2 linked regions of the Homo sapiens genome follow. The protein of the gene in region 2 purifies or fractionates together with the protein of the main gene of each other region. This does not show direct contact. Each region holds a gene or a part of one and is shown on either strand. Other genes may lie near its edges.

Region 1 (3,654 bases), on a different chromosome or scaffold from region 2:
GGAGGGAGGTGGGAAGAAAGAAGATGGGCTAGGGGCATGGGAGCACAGAGACAAGGTCAGGAAGGCTCACTGAGCTTATGTGCTAAGTGCCCAAACTGGTGGGGAGGGTGGAGGCAGGAGAAGCATTCAAGCACCTGAGGGGCCAGGGAGCTGGAAAATCATTTCTGATCATTAAAGGTGAAGAGAGGGTTCCACTATCACTAAAAAGTGCCAGACATCATGTCCTTCCAAAAGGCATACAGATACACCTGCAAAATCTAACTTGACTCTGCGCCTCTAGATCTGCCCTGCCCAACAAGAAGGCCATATGGTACTACTGAGCAACTGAAATGTGGCAAGCGCAACTCAGGAACAAAATTTTTAATGTTATTTCATTTTAATTAATTTGAATTTTATAATGGATACTCGATCCAGTTACTGAGAAACTTTTTATTGTCTGGAATAACTTGGCTATGTGAAACTACTTTTTCAACTGTACATTTTATGAAATCTAAATACAGATCAAGTGCTTTTGAGGAGAAATGGTCTGAAAATGGCAGTGAGGCATGACAAGGACACCCTGCCTACCTCCAGGCTGAGTGACAGTAGGGATGTGGAAGAGAGGCAGGGACCACTTTAGACAGCTGCAGGGCAAGTTGAGTCCCAGGTTTAAAGCAAGAAGGCGTGGAGAAAGAAGAGACAAGGGCACTGGGGTGGAGGTTGGAGTGTCATGTGATGACAGGCTGTGAATTAGAGGGCACAGTACAAGGGTCTTTGGGAGGAAGTACGGGAGAAGCAGGCACATCTCTTTGTCTCCAGTGCTGCCAAATTTCAAAATACTGGCCTGAGTTTATTGCATCCATTGAATACTGTGCAGGGCATTTCTGTAACCAGGAAACTCATTTCTTTCAGTTTTGGTAATTTTCTATTACTTTGTTGTTTTTTTTTTTTTTTTTTTTTTTAAACATTTATCTATGTATTCAGAATCACACACAAGTTACCTTTACAGTTCAATTTACTATATAGAAATCATTGGGTTTTATATTTGCAGTTAACTTTTGAACTGAGATTACAATATTATAACAAACTCCTTACTTTGTAATCCCTGTTCCTTTTCTCTGATCTCTCTTGTTGAAACCCATTACCTGGAGGCTGGATTTCCTGACCTGGTTCTTTTTATTGTTGTTTTAAATTTTCTCCTATCGTTTTCTCCAATTTTCTTGTCTTTTTGTTCCACGTTTGAGATTTCTTCAATTTTATCTTCCAACTCTTCTACTGATCTTTCAATTTCTGCTATCTTATTTCAGGACCGGTTCTTTTCTCCTCTGAATGTTCTTTTTGCATAGCACTGTGTTACTGTTTTGTGGATGCAACCTTTTCTTTTGTCTTTCTGAAGGCATCACGGATACTGTTTGCTTATCCTTGCTCATTTGTTTTGTGTTTTATTCTCCCTGCCAGGCCTCTACATCTTCCAAGGTGCTTTGGGCATGTATTTATTGTGGTTTCTGTCTTCCACCGTTAGAGGTCCCCTCAGATATGTGCCTATCTTTGGTTGTATGTTCATGATTAAGAGTCGGGGAGAGGGACTGAAATGCTGGCTGGGAGCTCTGAGCTTTGGAAGGGCATGTCTACTATGAGGTCCACTGTAGGGTAATCTAACCCTGTCCTTAAGGAAGCCCTAGTGTCAGTATCTTTAGAGCTTCCCCTTGGGCTGGATAGACTCCCCAGAAGGAAAGTAGAGTCCTCTTCTCATTTTCTATCTAGAATCAAGTTCACCTGCCAGAGTTCTATCAGCTGAAAGCAGGGAGTGGACTGGGAAGTGTTCAGCACTCCACACACACACGGTGAGTCACAATCTCTTTCTGGTAAAATACTCATGACCTCTATAGTGCTGGGTGACCCTAGCGGACCATCTGCAGAGTTTGAACTTTCAGGCTCCTGCTAAAGTCGGGAAGGGGCAGTACACCACATGGCATAGGTAGAAAATGGGATTCTGGGCTCTAACTTTAACACTTTTCAAACTCAAAGGTTTTAACTTATCCTCCTTAAAGGACAGAGCCCCTTCCTTCGCCCCCAGGATTTGCCTGTTGTTGGTCCTTTTGAAGATTTTCCAATTTTAAAAGAGGATGGTTCTCAACTTTCCCCTACGCAAGCTTCACATTTAGCTTTCTCAGAGCCAGGACGCCATCGCGTGATGGTCTGCTTCCCAGCTTCAGTTGCTACTGTGTCCTCTCCTGTTCTCCCCATCCTTGTGTGTTTACAACTTTTTTGAAAAAAAGTTATATAGGGTTATGAGACAGAAAGATTTTAGATGTGTGTAATCAATCTGTCATCTTAACCACAAGCTTTGCCTTGTGTTTTTACTAATAAGGTAACTTTGTCATGGACTGACTTATCCTTTAAAAAAGTACAAAGTATTCATAAACAGCAAAGATAGGGACTCTGGTATATGCACAGCTCTGTGCAAATAAAAACCCTGCATGGACCCTAGTCCCAGCAATTTAAGTTTGCACTTGCTTTAATCTTTTGATGTTGATGCTATTAGCTCAGCTGAGCCACAGAAACTCTGCTCTCTGAAACATGTCTGCTCATCTCCCACCTCCAGAATGTTTAACTCAAACAGCACAGCACATACCTTCCTGCCTATGATCCACCAACTGAGAAGCTTACATGGCAACACAAAACACTATCTGCTACCAAATATGACCCTTACTACACTTCAGAATTTGTTTGCCCACAGTGACATAGAAGGGGAGTAGGGAAGTGCTGGGAAGGGGCGGGTCCCTGGTGAGGGCTCCACCCCCAGCCTGTGCCCACGGATCTAGGTGAGGACAGGCATTTTTGTTTTCCTGCCCAAATGTTGCATTTCCCCCAGACCACCCTGGCCTGCTACGCCCTGATCCTGTGCCTGTAAAAACCTCCGAGACCCTAGCAGACAGGCACACAAGTGGCTGGACGTCAAGAGGAACGCATTGGCAAAAGACACAAGCAGCTGGACGGCGAGAGGACAGCAAGGGGAGCATGCCGGTGGAAGAGCACATGACAGACGCTGGCATGCCAGCAGGCCCCCGACCAGCAGAACGACGCAGTTTGGCCAGGGCAGTCAAGAGAGCTGGGGCCGCTCCATCTCCCTTCTGGCTTCCCCCATCTGCTGAGAGCTACTTCTACTCAGTAAAACCCTACACTCATTCTCCAAGCCCACGTGTGATCCCATTCTTCCAGTACACCAAGGCAAGAACCCTGGGATACAGAAAGCTCTCTGTCCTTGCCATAAGGCAGGGGTCTAATTGAGCTGGTTAATGCAAGCCATCTATGGATGGCTAAACTAAAAGAGCACTCTGTAACACATGCCCACTGGGGTTTCAGCTGTAAACATTCACCTCTAGACACTGCTGTAGGGTTGGAGCGACACAGCCTGCCTGTCTGTATGCTCCCCTAGAGGTTTGAGTAGCAGGGCAATGAAGAAGCGAGCCACTCCCACTGTTGCACGCCCTGCGAGGGGGACAAGGGAACTTTTCCCGTTTCAACAGCAACGATTCATGCTGAATGAAGTTTATAGTATGAGTTAAGGTAACTACCTACACAAGCCCAAGAGTTACTTATAAACTACTTTAAAAGTTCTATGATTGAAGTTCCAGAACTAGAGAGAATTAAAGCAGTATGCAACAGATGCTT
Region 2 (3,654 bases):
CCTTAAATTTAAGACACACCTTTTTATTTTGCACATTTGCATTAACGTGATTCCCCTCTGGGGAAGTTTTGAGCATTTACCATGAATACTATTTGATACTAAGCACACAACTAGCTCACTATGCATCAGCCCATACTACTTTGCCTAATGGGAATTCAGAGGGGATTTCTTCTGTGATAAATGGGAAGTTCTAAGCAGTCAAGTTTGCCCCTGAATTGAAACTGCTGAAGGGAAGATGTAAAATTCACAAAAATCCAAGGTTAGAATTTAATAATAATAATTCCTTATTATCATTAAGACAAAAAAAGAACGAGCTCATGTTGTCTGACCGCTGATCTGCCCCTTAGTTGTTAGAGGTTTGTGGACCTCTTCTACAAGGCTTTGTGCCTGAGAGTAGTAACAGTGGGAGGCAAATGTCCCAGAGACGTAGAGTGAAATAAATTGCAGTCCTCCTGTTAAAAAAAAAAAAAATCTCAACGTCAAGGAAGGAATGAAAACAGCTCTGGGGCTGGATGCAAATATGTAGCTGGCAGTAAATCTGTACCTTAGGAAAAGTAATTTGGAATATCCAAATCAAGGGCCAGCTCACCAAAACAACCGGACTAAGAGAGGTGATGAAAAGGCAATGAATATAGAAACTAAACTCCAATGGACAAGTCAGAGGATGTGTGTATGTATGAGGGTCTAACTATAAATTATCACAAAATTATCACATAAAGCAACAATAAAAGAAAAAAATTTTTTTTTTTTTGGAGACAGAGTCTCACTCTTTCACCCAGGCTGGAGTGCGGTGGCGCGATCTAGGCTCACTGCAAGCTCTGCCTCCCAGGTTCAAGTGATTCTCCTGCCTCAGCCTCCCTAGTAGCTGGGACTACAGGTGCCCGCCACCACACCCGGCTAACTTTTTGTATTTTTAGTAGAGACAGGGTTTCAGCATGTTAGCCAGGATGGTCTCGATCTCCTGACCTTGTGATCCACCCGTCTCGGCCTCCCAAAGTGCTGGGATTACAGGCGTGAGCCACCGTGCCCGGCCAAGAAAATTATTAATATCACTTTCGTGTCCATAGTTTTAGGAGTTATTACCACAGAACACTATCTTTTTAAAGTTGTTTTAGAAATAAACTTAGATGAGTAAACCTAAAGCTTCAGTACAGTCATGTGTTGCTTAACAATGGGGACACATTCTGAGAAATGCATCATTGGGCATCCTTGTGCAGACATCAGTGTCCTCACATAAACCAAGATGGCAATAGCCTACAACACCCCTAGGCTATATGGGATAGCCTACTGTTCCAAGGCAACAAACTTATACAGCGTGTGACGGTACTGAATGCCGTGGGCAACTGTAATACAATGGTAAGAATCTGTGCATCTAAATATAGAAAAGGTACAAAAAAATATGGTATCATAATCTTTTGGGACCACCATCATATATGCAGTCTGTGGTTGACCGAAACGTCCTTGTGTGACATATGGCTGTATTTGTCTTTGGATTATCTCGTCTGATCCCATTCCATTCCAATTCTGGTTAGTATAATATAGCAAGTATTAATGAAAATGATTCAGAACCAAATATCCAGGCTTTTTATGTGTATTTTTTTGGTATTGAGGGGTTTTGAAATATAGACAGAGGTTTTACAACTTTTAAAAGAAAATTTTTTTAAAACTTTTATTAGCAAATAATTAGCTAAAAACTGAAGCTTCCCTTTCAAACAGGCTATTGTTAATAAACTGTTCCTCTGCCATGTTTTTGTTGGTGAGAGAGGCAGGCAAAAGAGTGGGATGGGGGCAAGGCAGAAGGCCTTCATGCATTTCAATAATTAAGTCTAAACAGTTACCTCTAAGAACTGTTTTAAAAAAAACATTTTTAGTTGATAATAATTTTAGTTAAATGCTTGGGAATTTGATGTCTTTGAGAGGAAGAAAAATGAGGAAGTACCCTCTACACAGTCATAAGAAAAGATCTAGAGAGGCCTGCTCAAATGAGGCAGATTTTTTTTTCTCAATCCAACAACAAACCCATATGATAACTGAAAAGAAAATCCTGAAGAAAATGGTCGCATGTTGCTTTGGAAAAAACAATGTCAAATGACAGAAGATTGCAGAAACAAGAAAGCAGAGTAGCAGTTATTGCTTTAATTTGTGTATTCCTGTTTTAAGGCAAAATGTTAATACGGCCCTCGTCCTCACACCACCCTGCGCTCTTCTCCAAACTCGCCCAACAGCTTGCATTACCATCAAGAAGGTCAGAGAACAGTTCCTCTAATACTCTCCAACTTCATCCATAACTCTTGGAAACTTCAGCCTCCCTTCTCAGCAAGGACAAAAGAAGCAGAGCAAAAAAGGCCAGTTCATTCCATTAATACACAGACCAAATCCTATTACGACAGACAGATTCCTATCTCTACCCTCACCATCTCTTTCCCTTCCCCCAAATAAACAAGTCCTCAAAGCTATCAGCATTCAGCTCATCTCTAGGATGTGAACTACCTTCACTGAGGTTGGATTTGACCAAGACGCCATAGTTTGTGCCAGTTACCACACTGCTAAGCTGTTAAGGATGTTAGGGTTATAGGTGAATATTGAGGCTTTCTTTTTAATCAGCAGCCATTGTGAATTAAGTGTTCCTCTTCAATGATTTTTTTCTGCTGGTGGGGACCTCCACAAAACTTACCCAGCACCCCTAGCAAGACATTCCAGTCATAAGCTGAGGAATATTCTTCTTAGACATAGGGGAGAATAGGCTGATGTCTTAGGATTCATAATCCATTTTCATATAGTTCCGTGACCTTACTTTTGTCCTGACAAAATTATTCTGCCTGAACATCTGAGAGGGATCTAAATCCTAGGGCTTACCCTCTCCTAGGCAATGCTCAGTGAGAAATGCAATGAGGTGGCAGACACCTGTCCTTATGCAACACACAAGGAGCATGTGAACCTTTTAATGGATGACAACTTAATAAACCTATTAAGCCTTTTCTGAGCTTATCCTCACACTTAAGAGGCACCTGGGAATCTGCAGCAAATACACAGGGGTTTCATTTCGGGCTTTGTTTACAACAACCAAGTTAAGCAGTGGTTGGTGTTTAACCATTTCAAGGTTTGGGAAGCCCTGAGATTAACTGAAATTATTTCCAAAAATCTACAAACCCATGAAATGTTTAAAAAAACAACAAAAAAAAAACACTACTTAATCCCTAGAGCAAAACCAAGGACATAAAATGGTCTCTGAAACCAAGTTACTTTATATATTTAACAAAGTACTGGGTGGGCGTGGCATAACTTGATTTTAAACTGGAGATTTGTTTTTTCAAGCAATCTGGTGGTTCTTTAGAATACTGCTTTCCTAGTACCAAATTTGTGCAATATTAAATGATTCCTCCAGTACAATCTATCTTATTTGTTCAAATGACACCATCAGCTATGAAACTATCTGTGAATTTTGCCTCTATTCTCATAGGCATCATATCACTCAGCACTATGTTTTAAAGGAAGAAAGGTAATACTATCTGCTTTCTAATTGATTAATAGTTACAGCTGAGAACAGACCCCATACAATCTCATCCTTAACCATGTGTTTGGGGAAAGAAGAGGAAAATTAAGCTGTGAGATAAAGCCAAAAATCAAGAAAAACTTAAAATACTGATTATGAAC

The links.
Region 1: the proteins of SINHCAF (region 2) and SAP130 purify together in Homo sapiens (affinity purification with mass spectrometry; 4 studies listed by BioGRID and IntAct, with this or other methods). This does not show direct contact.

Annotation. Positions count from the first base shown.
Region 1 is NC_000002.12:127,982,906-127,986,559, forward strand, and holds part of SAP130 (histone deacetylase complex subunit SAP130), read right to left. Parts: intron 1-3,654. UniProt on the Homo sapiens protein: Acts as a transcriptional repressor. May function in the assembly and/or enzymatic activity of the mSin3A corepressor complex or in mediating interactions between the complex and other regulatory complexes.
Region 2 is NC_000012.12:31,298,583-31,302,236, forward strand, and holds part of SINHCAF (SIN3-HDAC complex-associated factor), read right to left. Parts: intron 1-3,654. UniProt on the Homo sapiens protein: Subunit of the Sin3 deacetylase complex (Sin3/HDAC), this subunit is important for the repression of genes encoding components of the TGF-beta signaling pathway.